2 separate regions of the Homo sapiens genome follow, and region 2 is linked to region 1. The links come from fine-mapping of genetic effects on gene expression. A gene starts in region 1. The other region holds a variant in brackets. All regions are shown on one strand. Distances are from middle to middle. Region 1 holds the start of WFIKKN2 (WAP, follistatin/kazal, immunoglobulin, kunitz and netrin domain containing 2). Region 2 has its middle 25 kb from the start of MIR8059.

What was found. PIP is the estimated chance that this variant, and not a neighbour inherited with it, causes the effect.
Region 2: its variant is fine-mapped to the expression of WFIKKN2 in blood mononuclear cells (TOPMed, PIP 0.95).

What each region holds. Positions count from the first base shown.
Region 1 is chr17:50,830,644-50,840,274 of GRCh38, forward strand. WFIKKN2 (WAP, follistatin/kazal, immunoglobulin, kunitz and netrin domain containing 2) reads left to right here and starts at 4,943. Exons shown (of 2, transcript NM_175575.6): 1 at 4,943-5,504; 2 at 8,856-9,631. The coding sequence starts at 5,295. RefSeq lists enhancers at 1-583, 584-1,454, 1,614-2,134, 2,135-2,655.
Region 2 is chr17:50,788,595-50,798,118 of GRCh38, forward strand. No RefSeq gene overlaps it. Among named protein-coding and RNA genes, the nearest start is that of MIR8059, 25 kb to the left of the region's middle. The variant A/G (reference allele first, on the strand shown) is at 6,010.

The sequences.
Region 1 (9,631 bases):
AGGGGGTCCCACAGTGAGATGATGGCAAAGCAGGAAGAGAGCCCAGGGCTCCTGACTCCTTGCACAGTGCTCAAACCAAGACCATGTAGCTTCCCGAGTGGGTGAGGAGCCCGAGACAGGCTCCAAATCTTCTAGGAAGACATTTGAATGCCAAAGGAGCCCAGAATTGTGCTGTCCCAGAGGTGCCTCCTCTTCTGGGTTCCTGACACAGAGACTCCAGGACTCCAGATTCCAGGGGCTCACTGCACCTGTAGACCCCCCCGGGCCAGGCAAGGGTCTCCAAGGAGGCCTAGCTGGCCCGGGACACTGGGCCATGCCCCACCCCTGACAACCCCATAATTCTCAGATGTGGATTCAGGACTGCCCTTGCTTTACCTCTCTGCTCAGTGAGGACCCTCCCGTGTCCTGTTCCACACAGATGCAGATGGATCACGTGTCTCACAGCTGAAGGCCTCCCCCATCCGTCTCCACCATCTGCTGAGGCCCCATAATTATTCCAAGGCCCGGTGCAGCCTCACTCAGAGGGGAGAGTTCACGCGGTCCTGTAATGCAACCCAGGCCCGAGGCCGCGCGGGCAGGGGGTCCCAGCTGGGTAATGAGCCGCTGGCTTTATTGAATTCTCCGGCTTGAGTCTGACTAATCACTGCCTTTAGCCAAGGCAACCTGGGCTGCCATCTGAGCACCCTGGCTAGGACTTCCTTTCCTTCTCAGCACCCCAATTCCTGCCCCTCCTCCCCAAACATGTTTAAATGACCAAGATCAGAGCGGGAGGGGCTCCTGGGGGGCTGGTTTCCCCCCATCCATTTGGGAGAAAATGTGGCTGGCTCAGATCTGGGGCCCAAGCAGGGTAGACCAGAATGGGCCGCTGGGGTGTACTTTGCTGGGGCCACCCTGTGCCGCGCCTGCAAGACCTGCAGCTCCCACCCCCACCCCATCTCCTAAACCTGCTGACGTCCCTATCACCTCCCCTTTCCGGAGGCCTGGGCCCCGCGGAGGGAGGGCCTTGGCCGAGGAGACTGTGGTGTGGGCCAGGCCTTTCCAAGGAGAGGTGTAGGAAATGCCTTCCCTCCTTTGAGATTCTGCCCAGGCTTGGGCCCCACCCAATGTCATGGTCGTGCGAGAGCCAGCCCCAGGTCTCTCCCTCCTCTCTGTTCCCCAGCCCTGAGAGGACTCCCCACCAGCATTCACCATTCTTATCTCTGCATGCTGGCTTTCTAGACTAGACGGTACCCTCCCTGTGGACAAAGATTGTTGTTATTTTCTTTTTTTTTTTTTTTTGAGATGGAGTCTCGCTTTGCCACTCAGGCTGGAGTACAGTGGCGTGATCTTGGCTCACTGCAGCCTCCGCTTCCTGGGTTCAAGCAATTCTTCTGTCTCAGTCTCCCAAGTAGCAGGGACTACGGGCTCACGCCACCATGTGCAGCTATTTTTTTTTATTTTTATTTTTAGTAGAGATGGGGTTTCACCATGCTGGCCAAGCTGATCTCAAACTCCTGACCTCAGGTGATCTGCTCACCTTGGCCTCCCAAAGAGTTAGGATTACAGGCATGAGCCACCATGCCTGGCCAGTTATTGGTTCCGATGTGCCCAGAACTTGGCACACCGTAGGTGCTCTAAAAAACCTTTGTGGAGAGAAATAGAGGGAGCAGGTGCAGTGTGAGGTAGGAGTGTGGGTGTGGGGTGTGCATAAGCCACGTGGCACCCAAGATACTCTTGTGGCACCTCTGTACCTCCCCATCGCGGCTGCTGGGGGCTGGCTGACTTGGGAAATGGTATCAGCTGTGCTGTCCCGTCAAGACCCTAGCGGCTCAGGAGTTGTTAATGTCAGGGTGAACCTGAGGTCAAGGGTCACTGAGAGTGACCTGGTGACCTCCTCCCACGGCTCCTAGAGCAGATTTGAACCCACCCTGGCAGTGTGAAGAATCCATGGTTCTCCACCCTGTGACAATGGTGGGGGATGGAGGGGCCCTTCCAAGATGGGGCCAAGCCCAGCCCTCTCTGACCTCTCATTCTGAGTAGCAGGAGAGCTGTGCCTGGTGTCCTTGGGGAAAGGGGAAAAGGCAGATCACGCCCGAGGCCAGGCCTCTGCTCAGGAGACCCAGCCCAGCCTCTGCTCCCAGTGGCCTGAGTGGAGGAGGCCCGGTGGACAGTGGGCATGTGCCACTGAGCCGCTCCCGCTGGGCCCACCTTCAGTACCGTGGGTTTGGTGAGGGTAGGGCCCACACCACCCACAGGGAAGAGTGTGAGGGACACAGAGTCAGACACACAGACACACCAAGAGGAGAGAGAGAAGGAGGCAGATCCAGAGCCAGTTCCAAGGGCCTCTGGGAGGGAGGAGAAGACTTCAAAGCGCTCCCAAACAGCTTATAAACAAGCCAGTGGGCGGGGCAGCCAGCATGGGCTGGGGGTCGCTTTCTGGAGGGGCTGGAAGCTTGCACGGGGTGTGTGGAGGCCATAGGCCCGGGGTGGGCAGGAGGAGGGCCCAGCCTAACCTCTCTGTGACTCGGTTTCCTCTCCCGCGCTAGGGAGCTCCCTCCTGGGGCTGCCGTGGGGTCAGCAGCAACGTGCAGGTGAAAACACTGTGTGGGCTCCAGGCCGATCAGATGTTATTTATTATTCTGAGCTGTGTTTTGGTGGGAGACTTGGAAGGGCTGGAGGGAGAGTCAGAGTGCTTTGGGCTCCTCTCTTTCCCGATGCTGCTTTGAGAGTTCTCAGAGTAGAACGTCCAGGAATGGGGCCCGGGAAGGAGAAGTCCGTGGCTTGAGACAGGACCAGGTTGGGTGTGGGGGCTTTCTCCATCAGCCCCAGGAGTGGGGGTAGGATGGCCAAGCTTCCCCTGCCCTGCCGTGTGCCCCTCTCCTGCCCTCCTCAGCACCCCCCAACCTCTGCTCGGTGCCTCCCCTCCTCCGACCCCCTCTCATCTCTCCCACACCCTCTAATGGTCTCTTGGGACTGCCCAGAAATCGGCCTCCTCTCCTTGGATACTTGTCCTGGCCTAATGGGGCTGTGACAGTTTTTCTAAGTCCTGCTTATAAATGTGTCACTGTCCATGTCCCTTTGTGCTATCAAAGGAGGCTGCGCAAACCGCGTTTGTCCAAGGGCTGTGTGAAGGCCCCCGCGCGGAGCAGCTGGAACACGGGCTGATGAAATTACGGGGAATTCAAAGCAGCCGGCGTCGCCCGCTGTCTGGCTTCATTACGGGGACTGGCCTCGAAGGGAAGTTTATTCCAATAATTTAGAGGATTAGGATCTGACACCCTTCATTAGCGATTTGACATAAGCAGAAAAGACAGATCCTGCAGAATGGCCGCACAACGGGAAGGGACCAGCTCAGGCGGGGAGAAGGCAGCACCCGCCCGGCTGGGAAGGGGAAGGGTCTGGGTGTGGAAGCGAGGGTCCCGTGGCCGTTTTACAGTCCTGTGAGATGGCGAGCTGTGTTCTTGAAGGGGAAAGTGGACGTGGGGAAGGAGCGGCCTGGGCTCAGGCCTCAGTTTCCTTAGCTGTAAAGCGAGATTACCTTCAGGATCCCTTCCGTATCTGATGCGTGTGGGGGCCACTCCACCTACTGTCCCCGGGACACAGCAGCTCCTCAAGGCCCTTGTGGTTTGGCCTTGGAAAGGTACCTCTCTTTCGGGGCTCTATGTGCCTCCGCCCCCTACCCCCAGGATCGAGTGACCAACTCGAAAACACTCAGACTGCAGGCTGCTCTGTGGCATTTTAGATAGAAGCCATTTGCTGCCAAATGGGGGAGGAATCGCCCCCAGCCCCTGGCAGCTTCTGGCTCTCTTCCCGGCCCCTCCACAAATATAGCCCCTGATGTTTCAAAAATTTCTTGTCCAGTCTGTGAAAACCAGAGTTTGGGCTGTGCCTTGACAGCAGTTCTGGCAGATGGATGGGGGAGGGGTGATTTTAAAAGGCCCCTGCCCACACCCAGCAAGCTGGTGTCCCTGTTTCCTGTACCGTGGTGGGGTAGCTGTGCGACATGGGCAGGTTGCTTAGCCTCTCTGTGCGTCCTTTCCTCCGATCTGAAATGGAGGTGCAGTTTGTTGTGAGGATTAAATGAGATGATGCGTTCAGAGAAGCCACACGTGTGAAGAGCCCAGTGCATCTGGCAGCTGGTACCACCAGGACTGCTCACTCTGTGCGACCTTGGACAAGTCGCTCGCCCTCTTCGACCACAGACCTTCTCCTTTGGGAAGTGGGGGAGGCCAGACAAGGCTGGCAGTCAGAAGGAGCTCACTGAAGAGCAGCCACTGTGGTCGTCAGCGAGGGCAGCTGGACTCCGGCACAATCCTGAGACACTGTGACCGCGGAGGTTTTCTCGGTGTGTCGATGGAAGAGGGAGGAATGTGATCCGTCCCAGCCGCCGGCGGGGCCAGAGCATATCTGGTATGTGTCTCTGGAATGATTTGGGGAAAATTAACTGAAGTTGGAACTTAAGACGCAAACTGCCCTGGACACAGAGATACAGAGCTGTCCGTGCGCACACCCCCCACAAAGGGCCGGGGCCGGGGTGGGAGTCGGCTTACAGGGCACAGCGCGGCGCAGGCCCGCCCTGGAATGGCCGTGAACTTGTTGTTTTTCCACGTCATTTGCTCTCAAATGTACTATCAAGCCGGGCGATGCTAACCCGGTGGCTGCAGGTCCCTCCTCGTAACAAGCGATTGTGTGTTCTTTAGAGGTGGCCAAAGGGGAGGAGGGGGCCCGGCCCCAAGGAGGTGGGGGAAAGGGAAACAAGCCCTCCTTCAGAGTGAGCTTGCGTGTCCTGGAGCCAGCTCCCCGCAAAGCACATGCCATTTCTGGCCCTTGAAGGGGTTAAAGGCCTCCTGGAGTCAAAAACAAGCAGGTGTCCCACCGTGCCAGATACGCTGCCTAAACTGCTTCCAGCTTCTTTTTTTTTTTTTCCCCCCTTCTGCAATAAGTCTGTGATCAGCCACGGGACAGAGGCGCCAGCAGCCTGCCTGTGACAGGCATCAGGTTAGCTGGCTCCCACTCGGGTGGCGCGCCCAGGATATAAATCCGGGCGCGGGCCCCTGCTGTGGCTCCTCTCCCTGCACACTCAGGAGAGGGAGCTTCCTTCTAAAGACCTTTCTTTTATCTGAAGCCGCACAGCCCGGCAGGCTGTGCTGACTTGGTGGAGGCAGCAGCGGCAGAGCAGCCTGAGCAGCAGCCTGAGCAGGAAACCTGCTGGGGTGGGGAGGGCAGGTGTCTGCAGCCCCTGAGAAGAAGGCCCTGGTGGGCCCCAGACCCTGGCATCGTTTCAGGGGAGGTCTCTAGCCGCCCCAGCCTGCACCATGTGGGCCCCAAGGTGTCGCCGGTTCTGGTCTCGCTGGGAGCAGGTGGCAGCGCTGCTGCTGCTGCTGCTACTGCTCGGGGTGCCCCCGCGAAGCCTGGCGCTGCCGCCCATCCGCTATTCCCACGCCGGCATCTGCCCCAACGACATGAATCCCAACCTCTGGGTGGACGCACAGAGCACCTGCAGGCGGGAGTGTGAGACGGACCAGGTGAGTGGGGTCCAGAGACCAGAGATGGACCACGTGAGCCTGTGAGTGACGGGGGTGGGAGCCGTCGGGGAGGGACTGTGTGGGAGTGTGAGGAGGACAACGTGAGTGGGGTCCAGAAGCCACAGTGTGAGGCGGACCAGGTGAGTGGTGTCCGGAAGCAGGAGTGTGAGATGGACCAGGTGAGTGGGATCCAGAAGCCACAGTGTGAGGCAGACCAGGTGAATGGGGTCCAGAAGCCGCAATGTGAGATGGACCAGGTGAGTGGTATCTAGAAGTGGGAGTGTGAGGTTGACCAGGTGAGTGGGGTCCAGAAGCCGGTGTGTGAGGCGGACCAGGTGAGTGGGGTCCAGAAGCCACAGTGTGAGATGGACCAGGTGAGTGGGATCCAGAAGCTGGAGTGTGAGGCGGACCAGGTGAGTGGGATCTAGAAGTGGGAGTATGAGGTGGACCAGGTGAGTGGGGTCCAGAAGCCACAGTGTGAGATGGACCAGGTGAGTGGGATCCAGAAGCTGGAGTGTGAGGCGGACCAGGTGAGTGGGATCTAGAAGTGGGAGTATGAGGTGGACCAGGTGAGTGGGGTCCAGAAGCCACAGTGTGAGATGGACCAGGTGAGTGGGATCCAGAAGCTGGAGTGTGAGGCGGACCAGGTGAGTGGGGTCCAGAAGCCAGAGATGGACCATATGAGCCTGTGAGTGATGGGGGTGGGAGCCACAGGGTGGGGACCATGCAGGAGTGCCCTGCAGGTCCTAGGAAGGTGAAGGAACACAGGCCCCGTTCACCTGGAGAGAAACAGGGCACCATCCTGTCTATTAACACCGAAGCCTGGAAGGAGAGGTGGGAGCGATGTCCCAGTTCATCAGGGACTGGAGCCCGAGGATTCCTCCTTCATGCGTGCTGAGGGCTACTGTGGCCAGCACCGTGCCGGGCACGTCGTGTATGTTGGCATGACATGTCAGCATGGTGGGCATCAGCAGCCCATTCACAGGTGAGAGAGTGGACACAGAGCCAGGCACGGAGGGCACAGTTGTCATGGCCAGTGAGGGAACGATGAGCTTGGAACTCATGTCTAACAAGAAAGCTTTGATTGCATTGGACTCCAGGCCACCTCCTCAGGAGTTTGGACCCTGAGCCTGAGAGAAGACCAGGCTGACGGCAGGCCAAGCAGGAGCAGCTCTGAATGGATCTCTGGTGTCCCTGGGAGGAAGGAGACCACGTTTCAGCCTCCCAGCGTCCTTGGTCCTGCCTTCTGCTCTGTATCAGAGGGCACTGCTGCAGGGCAGGGCCAGTTCTCTTCTAGCTCCCGAGTCATTCCCGAGGGCCATTCCTGCCCACCCCCTCTGGGGCAACAGGCTGTGGGACCTACACCTGCTCCAGGCAGAGCTATTTCCTGCCCAGTCTGGCCAGCTCTGAGGGCAGCACGGAGTCTCCCAAGGCTCCAGATCCAGGCTGGGGCATCCCCAGGGAACACGAGAGACACTGGTTCCCCCATAGATGCCTGGTTACCCACAGGAGAGCAGAGGGCTGACCTGGAGAGGGTGGCCTCAACCTCACAGTGCCCAGGGACAATTCTTAGGCCTCCCAGGACAGATGCTCCCCTTGGGCAATGGTGGTGCCAAGTGAAAGGAAGATAAGAAGTCAGGAGGAGTGGTGGCTGCTCCCATCTGGCCAAGGTCATGCCATTAGTTGGCTACATTTGCAGGCACAGGCTGGCCTGATTAACCAGGTAGGGCTTGGGGATGGTGAGACTCTGGTGGATTTTGTGTGTCTTGGAGAGAAGGCACCTGTGGAAGGCTGGGTATCCAGACAGCCCTTGGGGACATTCTGGCCCCCTTACACAGAAGTGTTCTAAGGACCCCCTGTAGGTTCCCTGTGGCCAGAAGTACCTTCCCTCTGGTGCCCAAGGACCCAGGCTTTCATGGACCTCCAGGTCCTGAATGTCTTAGGGAATGGGATGAGGCTCAGGCCAAGGAGAAGGTTCTCCTGCTCCTACTCCCTCTCCTGCTCTCCATTCCCTGCGGGGTCTCTCTCCCTTAGACCCAGCTCTGAGAGCTGCCCATCCCTGTCCCAAAGCCTCCCCTGGTGTGGCCTAGAAGACTATGCCAAACAAGGGCTGCAAAACAAAGTCCCCATTCTGAGCCGAAACGGGTAGAACAGTAAACAAGTCAAGCAGGCAGGCTCCATGCAGCCAGGGTGGGGGGATATTTTCCCCCTCTTAGCTGATGTGGAATGTCAAAGAGGCTGAAATAAAAGTTGGAATGACAAGAGGCCAGCCCTAGTGGGGAGTAATTCACAGAGTTACTACCTGGTGGAGGATTAGGAGCGTTGCCTGCCTGCCAAGTGGGTACGATGTGTTATTGTCGAAAACACCACGTGAAATCCTTGTTTGTGTCAGCTCCAGGAGCATGTTGCTAATTTCGAGGAATTAAACTAATGCTTTACGTGGCTCCACAGAATATCAGAGGGGATTACAGCCTGGCAAGTCCTCGCTGACGGCCTTGCTGACCTTTGCCACACAAGGGGACTTTTTTTCTTGTTGCTTTTCCCGTGAAAGGTCCCACACGGAGCTGATACCTGGGCCTGGCACAGCCTGTGGCTCTGAGACCTGGCGTGTGGGGCCCGTCACGCCTGCCCTGACTGTTGGCTGTGGATCGATCTGGGCCCTCTCACAGCCTCTGTTCCCCGTGTGTGTCGGTCTCCTTGAGGGGAGGAGAGGTGTGGATCATCTCGGATAAAGTCCCAGGGGCATTCCCCTCTTAACCTCTGATGCGATCTCTTCCAGTCAGCAAGGCATCCTCACTCCCATAGGAAAGAGATGAAAGGCAGGCCTACTTGTTCAAGCTAGACCTCATTTGTGCTATATGATGCAGGAGAAAAAACTCCATTTCTCAATCCCTTCCACTGGGAGCTTGGAGCCTTGTTCTGCCACTTCCCGTCTCTGTGAACTTGGGCATCACCTCTCTGAGTCTCTGCAGTCTCATCTGTAAAATGGTTGTAGGAAAACTTTTCCTCTTAGAGTCTTTGGCCCACCCCTTCCTACCCTGCTAGCTGAGTGACCTTGGGAAAGTTACTTAGCCTCTCTGTGCCTCAGTCATCATCTGTGGAGTGGAGATAATGGCTATACCCACCTCTGGCTTGTGATGAGCATAGCAAGCTCACAGATGTCAAAGTTCTTACACAGGGGCCTAGCATGTAGGAGATGCTACGTATGCATTCGTTATTATTTTCAAGTGTTTTGCTCCCACTAGATGGTGAGTACATGTTAGTTCTCCTCCCCACAAACCATGGGGTAGGATAGGGAGCCCCTCCTTTCCTCCTTCTCCCTGTTCAGGCCACTCTCTCTGGCTCTTTCAGGAGTGTGAGACCTATGAGAAGTGCTGCCCCAACGTATGTGGGACCAAGAGCTGCGTGGCGGCCCGCTACATGGACGTGAAAGGGAAGAAGGGCCCAGTGGGCATGCCCAAGGAGGCCACATGTGACCACTTCATGTGTCTGCAGCAGGGCTCTGAGTGTGACATCTGGGATGGCCAGCCCGTGTGTAAGTGCAAAGACCGCTGTGAGAAGGAGCCCAGCTTTACCTGCGCCTCGGACGGCCTCACCTACTATAACCGCTGCTACATGGATGCCGAGGCCTGCTCCAAAGGCATCACACTGGCCGTTGTAACCTGCCGCTATCACTTCACCTGGCCCAACACCAGCCCCCCACCACCTGAGACCACCATGCACCCCACCACAGCCTCCCCAGAGACCCCTGAGCTGGACATGGCGGCCCCTGCGCTGCTCAACAACCCTGTGCACCAGTCGGTCACCATGGGTGAGACAGTGAGCTTCCTCTGTGATGTGGTGGGCCGGCCCCGGCCTGAGATCACCTGGGAGAAGCAGTTGGAGGATCGGGAGAATGTGGTCATGCGGCCCAACCATGTGCGTGGCAACGTGGTGGTCACCAACATTGCCCAGCTGGTCATCTATAACGCCCAGCTGCAGGATGCTGGGATCTACACCTGCACGGCCCGGAACGTGGCTGGGGTCCTGAGGGCTGATTTCCCGCTGTCGGTGGTCAGGGGTCATCAGGCTGCAGCCACCTCAGAGAGCAGCCCCAATGGCACGGCTTTCCCGGCGGCCGAGTGCCT
Region 2 (9,524 bases), 42 kb before region 1:
TCTTAAACTCCTGACCTCAGGTGATCCGCCCGCCTTGGCCTCCCAAGGTGCTGAGATTATAGGCATGAGCCACCGCGCCCGGCCAAGGATGACTGACATTTTGAATTTGAACAAGTGGGTAAATGGAGTTACTGTCTACTGAGATGGGGAGTGCTGGGGTAGGGCCTCTGCTTTAGACATAAAAGGTATCTGAGAGCACAGGGTCTTTGGAACCTGGTGTCTAAAGTAGACAAAGAGACTGGCATCTCAGGTAGGAGTGCAGGCTTGGGGAGCCCCACCTTCCACAGTGTGGGGGAAGCAGGAGGCCGTCAGAGTCTCACTAGCCATCCTGTTCATTCATGAATTCATTTATTCATTCATTCAGTAAAAATTTATGGAGCACCAAGGATAAGCCAGACACTTTTCTGGATGCTGGAAATAGAGGAGAACAAGAGGCGGTGTTGCCAGTCTAATTTGGTTCCTTACCTCCAGGTAGAAGAGACAGGTAATGAATAAGCAAACGTGTAAAAGAGAAGATGATCTTACAGAAGGACGGTGTCACAAGGAGCAGTAGAGGGTGGTAGGGAGTGCCAGGGAAACAGAATTGGGTAGGGGGTCACCCAGGCAGCCCCAAGGACCAGTCCCAGACTCCCAGGAGGACCTACCTCAGTTTGTCTTCTTTTTGTCCCACAGAATGGCTGCTATACCATTAGGAAGGGGAGGGAAGAGGAGTGGCCCTGCAGTGACCCTCAGGGGTCTTTGGAGGGGGGGGCTTTGTCCTAGAGGAAGAATCTCTTCGCAGGGTGCTGTGGCTCATGCCTATAATCCCAGCACTTTGAGAGGCCAAGGCAGGTGGAGCACCTGAGGTCAGAAACTCCAGACCAGCCTGGCCAACGTGGTGAAACCCCATCTCTACCAAAAATACAAAAATTAGCCAGGCGTGTTGGTGCGTGCCTGTAATCCCAGCTACTTGGGAGGCCGAGGCAGGAGAATCACTTGAACCCAGGAGGCAGAGGTTGCAGTGAGCTGAGATCATGCCATTGCACTCCACCCTGGACAACAGAAAAAGACCCTATTAAAAAAAAAAAAATTCGCCAGGCGTGGTGGCGCATATGCCTGCAGTCCCAACTACTCGGGAGGGTGAGGCAGGAGATCACTTGAGCCTGGGAGTTTGAGGCTGCAGTGAACTATGATTGTACCACTGCACTTTAGCCTGCGAGACAGAGTGGAGCCCTGTCTCAAAAAAAGGAAACAGCGGGTGTGGTGGCTCACACCTATAATCCCAGCACTTTGGGAGGCCAAGGCAGGCGGATCACCTGAGGTCAGGAGTTCAAGACCAGCCTGGCCAGCACTGTGAAACCCCATCTCTACTGAAAATACAAAAATGAGCCGGGAGTAGTGGTGAACGCCTGTAGTCCCAGCTACTCAGGAGGCTGAGGCAGGAGAATCGCTCGAACCCAGGAGGCAGAGGTTGCAGTGAGCTGAGACTATGCAACTGTACTCCAGCCTGGGTGACAGAGTAAGACTCTGTCTCAAAAAAAAAAAAAAAGGAAACAGAGAACCCATGAGAGGTATATGCTGTGTTCCCACAGAGCAAAACTGCTCAGCCCACTGCAAAATTCTTCTCTGAGTGTGTGGAAATGGGGTTGCTCACTTTCTACCATTTGAGAGTTTCTGCTATGCAAAGAATTTTCTTTGTGCTTCCTGGTGCTTTATCCTGCAAAGAATGGGAGAGTGAGGCCTGTGAAGGCTCATAAGCCAAAGTTCCCATCTGAGCTCTGCCACTGCATGATGGGTGACCTCAGGTGATGTGTTCGTGTCCTTTGGGACAGCAAGAGTTAATATGGGGGAGCAATTTAGTTAAAAGAGATTTTGAAGAAGCTGAACTCAGACAATTGTGAGCAAGCTTCAGGGATGGTTCTGGTTATTGAGACAAGGAACAAGACGAATACTAGAACCTGCGCTGAGGCTGTGGCAGGCTACGGAGAAGAGGAGGCAATGATATCTGCTAGGAGAGTGTTGCATTATGGGGCTGAGGGACTGGGAGGGCCATGGGCATTCCTGGGGCTTCCAGTTTGGGCACTGGAGTGAATGATGGACTATTAACTGGGAGTGAGCACAGAAGGAGAAGCCAGCTCAGAGGGAAAAGGATCAGGTTCTGTTGAGGACACGAAGCGTGAGATGACTGGCAGATTTCTAGAAACACGGATGTGAAGTTGAGGAAGGAAGTTGGACCCATAAGTGCCCAGTCAGAAATCCTCAGGGCCTGGATGGTGCTTGTGCAGAGAACGACCAGATGATAACTCCAGCTGTTTCCCTTTCCTTCTAGGGACACATCCAGAATACACTTTGGGCCAGGCACAGTGGCTCACGCCTGTAATCCTAATACTTTAGGAGGTCAAGGCAGGCAGATCATTGGAGCCCAGGAGTTCGAGACCAGCCTGGCCAACGGGGCGAAAACCCGTCTCTACAAAACAACAACAATAACAACAACAACAAAAATTAGCTGGGCATGGTGGCGTGTGCCTGTAGTCCCAGCTACTTGGGAGGCTGAGGTGGGAGGGTTGCTGGAGCCTGGGAGTTCAAGGTTGCAGTGAGCCAAGATCACATCGCTGCACTCCAGCCTGGGCAACAGAGGCAGACTTGGTCTCAAAAAACAAAACAAAACAAAAGAACACACTTTGCAGCCTCCCTCCATTGAGGGGGCTGCTTTCTGTCCAGTGGAATGTGAGTAAAGTGGCAAAGCCACTTCCAGGTCTGGCCTATGAAAATCTACCCTTAGCTCTCCAATCTTCTCCTCTAGGCATTGGCCGACTTTTTCTGTAAAGGACCAGTTGGTAACGGTTTTAGACTTCATGAGCCATGCCATCTCTATTGCACCTAATCAACTCTGCCGTTGTTGTGTGAAGACAGCCATAAGCAATATGTAAATGTGTCTGTGTTTCAATGAAACTTTATCTACTAAAGCAGGGCCACAGCTACTCTTCTCTCTCTCTTATTTGCTACCTGAATTCTGATATTCAGATCGCCTTTAGAAGCCACATGTTGAAAGTGGCACAGCCTCCCGTTGTCTGAGACACTGTAAGAAACCCAGACAAGAAAACCAGATGGGGTGCAAGGAATCGGCGATTTCCGTTTCTTACAGCAGAAATGGAGGTCCCCCAATTCCTTGCCCCCATCCTCCTTTTATGGAGTAAGAAATAAACCTGTATTGTGTTTAGCAACTGAAATTTGGGGGTGGGGTATCTCTTCCATAAGTTAGTGTTACTTTAACTAAGATAGAATTAGTACTAGGAGCGGGATATTGCCATAATGAAAATCGAAAATGTGTGGCATTGGTTTTGTAGTTGGGCAAGATAGTGAGAAAACCTTTGTCAGGGTTTGGAAAGATGGAGACCCATGCTAGGCAACGGCAAAACATTTGGTAAAATAGTTGCCTGAGATAAACAGGTCAGCTGTCCTCTGACCCTGTAGCTCTAAGGGAAGAAGTCATAAAGTACAGGCAGCACTTAACAAGGTCTCAGAAGAATAAGATGGGACCAGTGAGCACTGGCTGATTTGCAAGCAAAACTAAGATGAAATAGGGACTCCCGGAATTTGGGGTATTGGTTAGGAACATTGACGGCTTCTAGATGCCAAACAGAAGGAAATCATAGCTTAAAGGCCTTTGAGCAGCAAAGGCCCATGAAGCCTCAACCTCAGGCAAGGTCAGAGTCAGGGAGTGTCCTTCCCCAGGCCTGAGAACCTCAAGATTGCCATCAGCACATCGAGAGAGAATGGCCGGAGGGCGGACAGCAGAAGAATCAGGCTGGAGAACTGTGTCTAACTGTGAATTTCGCACGTGGTTGCTGGCATCCAGAAATGACTGGAAGCAAGTAGAGGAGCCTTTTCAGATTTTCAGGGAACTGTATGTCAAATAAGCCATAAGCCTGAACTTCAAAAAATAAACAAATAAAAAAGAGAGAAAGTGTTTGAACTTTTGGGCCTTAAAACCACCTTGAGGCTGGATGTGGTGGCTGACGCCTATAATCCCAGCACTTTGAGAGGCTGAGGCATGTGGATCACCTGAGGTCAGGAGTTCGAGACCAGCCTTACCAACATGGTAAAACCCCATCTCTACTAAATACACACACACACACACACACACACACACAGTTAACTGAGCATGGTGGCGCATGCCTGTAATCCCAGCTAGTTGGGAGGCTGAGGCAGGAGAATCGCTTGAACCCGGGAGGTGGAAGTTGTGGTGAGCTGAGATTGCGCCATTGCACTCCAGGCTGGGCGACAGAGCGAAACTTCGTCTCAAAACAAAACAAAACAAAACAAAACCACTTTGAGATCTTAAAACTTTTACCCGAAGGAGCTGCAGGCTACAAAAGATGAGCAGCAACCCGGGAGGGTCTACCCCTCAACGGTCGCTGCGAATGCGGCCTTGGAGCAACATGGCAAGACGACAGTGTGGAGGGCAGGGCTGGGAGCCATAGAGAAGAGGACAGGGCAATTCCTTCAAGGGTGGGGGCGCTCCCAGCACCCACCTGGCCAAATGGCATCATCGCTGTCATCAGAGCCTGCTTTGCATCTTCTGTTCTTCCCTTCTCTGAAGAGGATGTTGTCCTGTGCTTGCCCTATCTGCACCCCACCACTGGATCCGGAAGTGTGTTGTGTGTCTATACTGGGGTGGAGAAAGGAAGGACACGATAACTTGTTCTTTTAGGCATCGGTTTCCAGATCACAGGGAGTCACAGAGGACCTGGAGGAGAGAATCCTGTGTGTGCTGGAGATCCCGAACTGTGGCGGAGGCCCCAGGAGGCAGTGATGGTGTGGACTCAGCTGCCTCTCCGGGAAGCAGTGAGTGTGTTCCATGTGTAAGAGGAAGAGTGAAATGGCTACTTAGTGGCTATTGGGCAACCCATGGCAGAGACTGGCTAGAGGCTTACGAACGCTGTCTTAGTCCATTTTGCATTGCTGTAAAGGAAACTGAGGCTGGTAATTTATAAAGAAAGAGGGGTGTTTGGCTCATGGTTCTTCAGGCAGTACAGGAAGCATGATACCAGCACCTGCATCTGGGGAAGGCCCCAGGAAGCTTCTACTCAGGGCCACAGGACAAGGGGGAGCAGGCACGCCACATGGCCAGAACGATGCCAGGCTCCTTTAAATAACCAGGCCGGGTGCAGTGGCTCACACCTGTAATCCCAGCACTGTGGCCAAGGTAGGAGGATTGCTTCAGGCCAGAAGTTTGAGACCAGTCTGGGCAACATAGCAAGACGCCATCTCTAAAAAAAAAATCAGGCTGGGCGCCGTGGCTCACACCTGTAATCCCAGCACTTTGGAGGGCCGAGGTGGGCAGATCACTTGAGGCCAGGAGTTCAAGGCCAGCCTGGCCAACATGGTAAAACCTTGTCTCTACTAAAAATACAAAAATTAGCTGGGCATGGTGGCAGGCACCTGTAGTGCCAGATACTCAGGAGGGTGAGGCATGAAAATCACTTGAACCCAGGAGGCAGAAGTTGTAGTGAGCCAAAACTGTGCCACTGCACTCCAGCCTAGGTGACAGAGTGAGACTCTGTCTCAAAAAAAAAAAAAAAAAAAAAAAAAAAATTAGCCAGGTGTGGCGGTGTGGGCCTGCTCAGGAGGCTGAGGTGAGAGAATCACTTGAGCCTGGGAGGTGGAAGTTTCAGTGAGCCGTGATTGCACCACTGCACTCCAGCGTGGATGACAGAGTGAGACCCTGTCTCAAAAAAAAAAAACAGACAAAAACAAAGCACCCACATGAACTAATAGATTGAGAGCTCACTCATTACCATGGGGAGGGCACCAAGCCATTCCTGAGGGATCCACCCCTATGATGCAAACACCTCCCACCAGGCCCACTCCTAACACTGGGGCTCATATTTCAACATGAGATTTGGAGGGGCCAAACATCTAAGCTATATCGAACGCCAGCCCCTCTACTGCCAGATGAACTGCTAGATCACATTCCCGACTTTCATTGCGTTAGATGTGGCCATGGGCGGAGTTCGGGCCAGTGGA[A/G]GGTGGGTGGAAGTGAGGTACTTGTCTATCATAAAAACCCACACAACCTTCCAAACCATTCTCCTTGTTCTCTCCAGGCTGCTGACTGGATACAGATGTCCAAGGCCAATGAGGAAGCCATGTGTCAAAGATGGCAGGGGGCAGGGCATGGTGGCTTACACCAGTAATCCCAGCACTGTGGAAGGCTGAAGCAGCTGGATCACTTGAACCCAGGAGTTTGAGACCAGCCTGGGCAACATAGTGAGACACCATCTCTACAAAGAATTTAAAAACTGGGCCAGTCGTGATGGCTCACGCCTGTAATCCCAGCACTTTGGGAGGCTGAGGCAGGCAGATCACAAGGTCAGGAGTTCGAGACCAGCCTGGCCAACACAGTGAAACCCTGTCTCCACTAAAAAATACAAAAAATTAGCTGGGCGTGGTGGCAGGCGCCCATAATCCCAGCTACTCGGGAGGCTGAGGCAGGAGAATCGCTTGAACCCAGGAGGCGGAAGTTGCAGTGAGCCGAGATCGCACCATTGCCCTCCAGCCCGGGCAACAGTGTGATGAGACTCCATCTAAAAAATAAATAAATAAATAAATAAATAAATAAATAAATAAATAAATAAAATAAAAAACTAGCTGGGCACAGTGGCTCACATCTGTAGTTCCAGCTACTTGGGAGGCTGAGGTGGGAGGATTGCTTGAGTCCAGGGGGTTGAGGCTGCAGTGAGCAGTGATTGCACCACTGCACTCCAGTCTGGGTGGGTGACAGAGCAAGACTCTGTCTCAAAAAACAAACAAAAAAAAACTTTTGTGACTTTGTGGAACTCAGGCCAACTGGATTTCCTATGAAGAAATACACTTCTATTACATTAAGCCACTGAAACCTTGGTGTTTGCCTGTAATAGCAGCTGGTGTCACCTTAACTAGAGTTGAAGCCATGGGAGCAGAGCAACCAGAGCAGGGAGAGGCAGGAAGAGAACTGAGGCAGGACCCTGGGGACACCTCATTAAAGAGCGGCTGACACGGAGGTGGCACAAAGGAGACTGAGAAGGAAGCAAGAGGAGGATGAGGGCAGAGTGGCCTTCTGGAAGAAAAGGAATGTGGTGGCCAGGCATGATGGCTCACGTCTGTAATCTCAGCACTTTAGGAGGCCAAGGCAGGTGGATCACTTGAGGTCAGGAGTTTGAGACCAGCCTGGCCAACATGGTGAAACCCCATCTCTACTGAAAATACAAAAACTAGCCAGGTGTCATGGTGTGTGCCTGTAATTCCAGCTACTCAGGAGGCTGAGGCAGGAGAATTGCTTGAACCTGGGAGGCGGAGGTTGCAATGAGCTGAGATCACACCACTGCATTCCAGCCTGGGTGACAGAGCGACACTCCGTCTCAAAAAAAAAAGAATAGGCCGGGCGCAGTGGCTCACGCCTGTAATCCCAGCACTTCAGGAGGCTGAGGCGGGTGGATCACAAGGTCAGCAGTTCAAGACCAGCCTGGCCAACATGGTGAAACCCCGTCTCTACTAAAAATACAAAAATTAGCCAGGCATGGTAGCAGGTGCCTGTAATCCCAGCTACTCCGGAGGCTGAGGCAGGAGAATCGCTTGAACCTGGGAGGCGGAGGTTGCAGTGAGCCGAGACCGTGCCATTGCACCCCAGCCTGGGCGACAGAGCAAGACTCCGTCTCAAAAAAAAAAAAAAAAAAAAAGGAATGTGGTTGACGGAGAGAGAAGTGTCTTAGTCTGTCTTATGCTGCAATAACAGAGTACCTGAGACTGGATAATTATGAGGAACAGGGATTTATTTCTTATAGTTCTGGAAGCTGGGAAGTCTAATATTGAGGGGCCGGCATCTGGTGAGGGCCTTCTTGCCACATCATCTGACAGTGGAAGGGCAAGAGAGGTAGAGACAGAGAGAGAAAGGGGCCAACTTCATCCTGTTATAAGGAACTCACTCCCACTGAGATAACAGCATTAGCTCTTTCTTGAGGGCAGAACTTCCTGGCATAATCACGTCTCATTAGGCCCTACCTCAACACTGTTGCATTGGGGATTAAGTTTCCAACACATGTTTTTGGGAGTACACATTCAAACCACAGTGAGAAGAAACTCTAGATACGTATGTATACATACATACATAAATATATGTACTTTTTTTTGAGACAGGGTCTCACTCTGTCACCCAGGCTGGAGTGCAGTGGGGGTGATCATAGCTCGCTGCAGCCTCAGCTTCCTGGGTTCAGGCAATTCTCCCACCTCAGCCTCCTGAGTAGCTGATACTACTGGCATGCACGCCACCACACCTGGCTGGTTTTTTTTGTTTTGTTTTGTTTTGTAGAGATGAAGTCTCACTATGTTGACCAGGCTGGTCTCAAACCCCTGGGCCCAAGGTCCACCCACCTCAGCCTCCCCAGGTGCTAGGGTTACATGCATGAGCCACTGAGCTCAGCCAAACACTATATATATATAATATAAAAATATATATGTACAGAGGCAAAGGCTTAAAAAATAATTTAAAAAGTATATCTATATTTTTCCCAAACTAAAAAGGATGTGTCAATTGAGGCCAAGAGGATGCAAACAATCCAAAGACCAAAAGCCTATTATTTAATTAACTTCCTTTCTTTGCTTGTTAGATGAGATTTGGATTTGATGTGTCTGTTTTCTTGGCCCTGGTCTGCTCATGAAAGCCTTCTACAGGGGGAAGCTGTGGGCAGGTTCCTATAGCGACTCTTTGGGAGAACTCTCACAGGGCTGAGTAATTGCTTAGTTCTGCCTGCTTCGTTCCCTTCTGCTTCATAGGTACTACAAAATAGTTGTTGTCCACAGTGGTGAGCCCCGCAGTGAGTGAAAACAAGTTCTGGAAGTTCAGTGTGCTGTCTTGGCACTGGTCCATGTCCTTCATTGTTATGTCTGCAGCCAGAGGGTCTTTTTGATTCTCCAAAAATCCAAGGAACTCCTTTCCCATGAGTACTTTCAGGCCCTCCTTCATTAAGTAGCCTTTATCCCCGGCAAATCTGTGAAACGTAAACAACACGGTTTCCATGGTGTGTTCCATTGGACTGGGGTTGTTCGTGAGATCTGTTGAAACCTTGGCTGGAGGTGCGTTGTGGGCGCTTGGCAAGCTGGGCCTCAGGGCCCCTCGGGAAGGAGCAGTATTAAGAACTTGTTTTGCTATCTCAAGGACAAAAAAACAAACACCGCATGTTCTCACTCATAGGTGGGAATTGAACAATGAGAACACTTGGACACAGGAAGGGGAACATCACACACCGGAGCCTGTTGTGGGGTGGGGGGAGGGGGGAGGGATAGCATTAGGAGATATACCTAATGTAAATGACGAGTTAATGGGTGCAGCACACCAGCATGGCACATGTATACATATGTAACAAACCTGCACGTTGTGCACATGTACCCTAGAACTTAAAGTATTAAAAAAAAAAAAAAGAACTTGTTTTGCAAAGGAGCCCTGGGTCAGGCACAGGGTCTGAGGCTGGCCTTGTGAGGGCCCCTTTCCTTGTGGGGACAGGCCACCA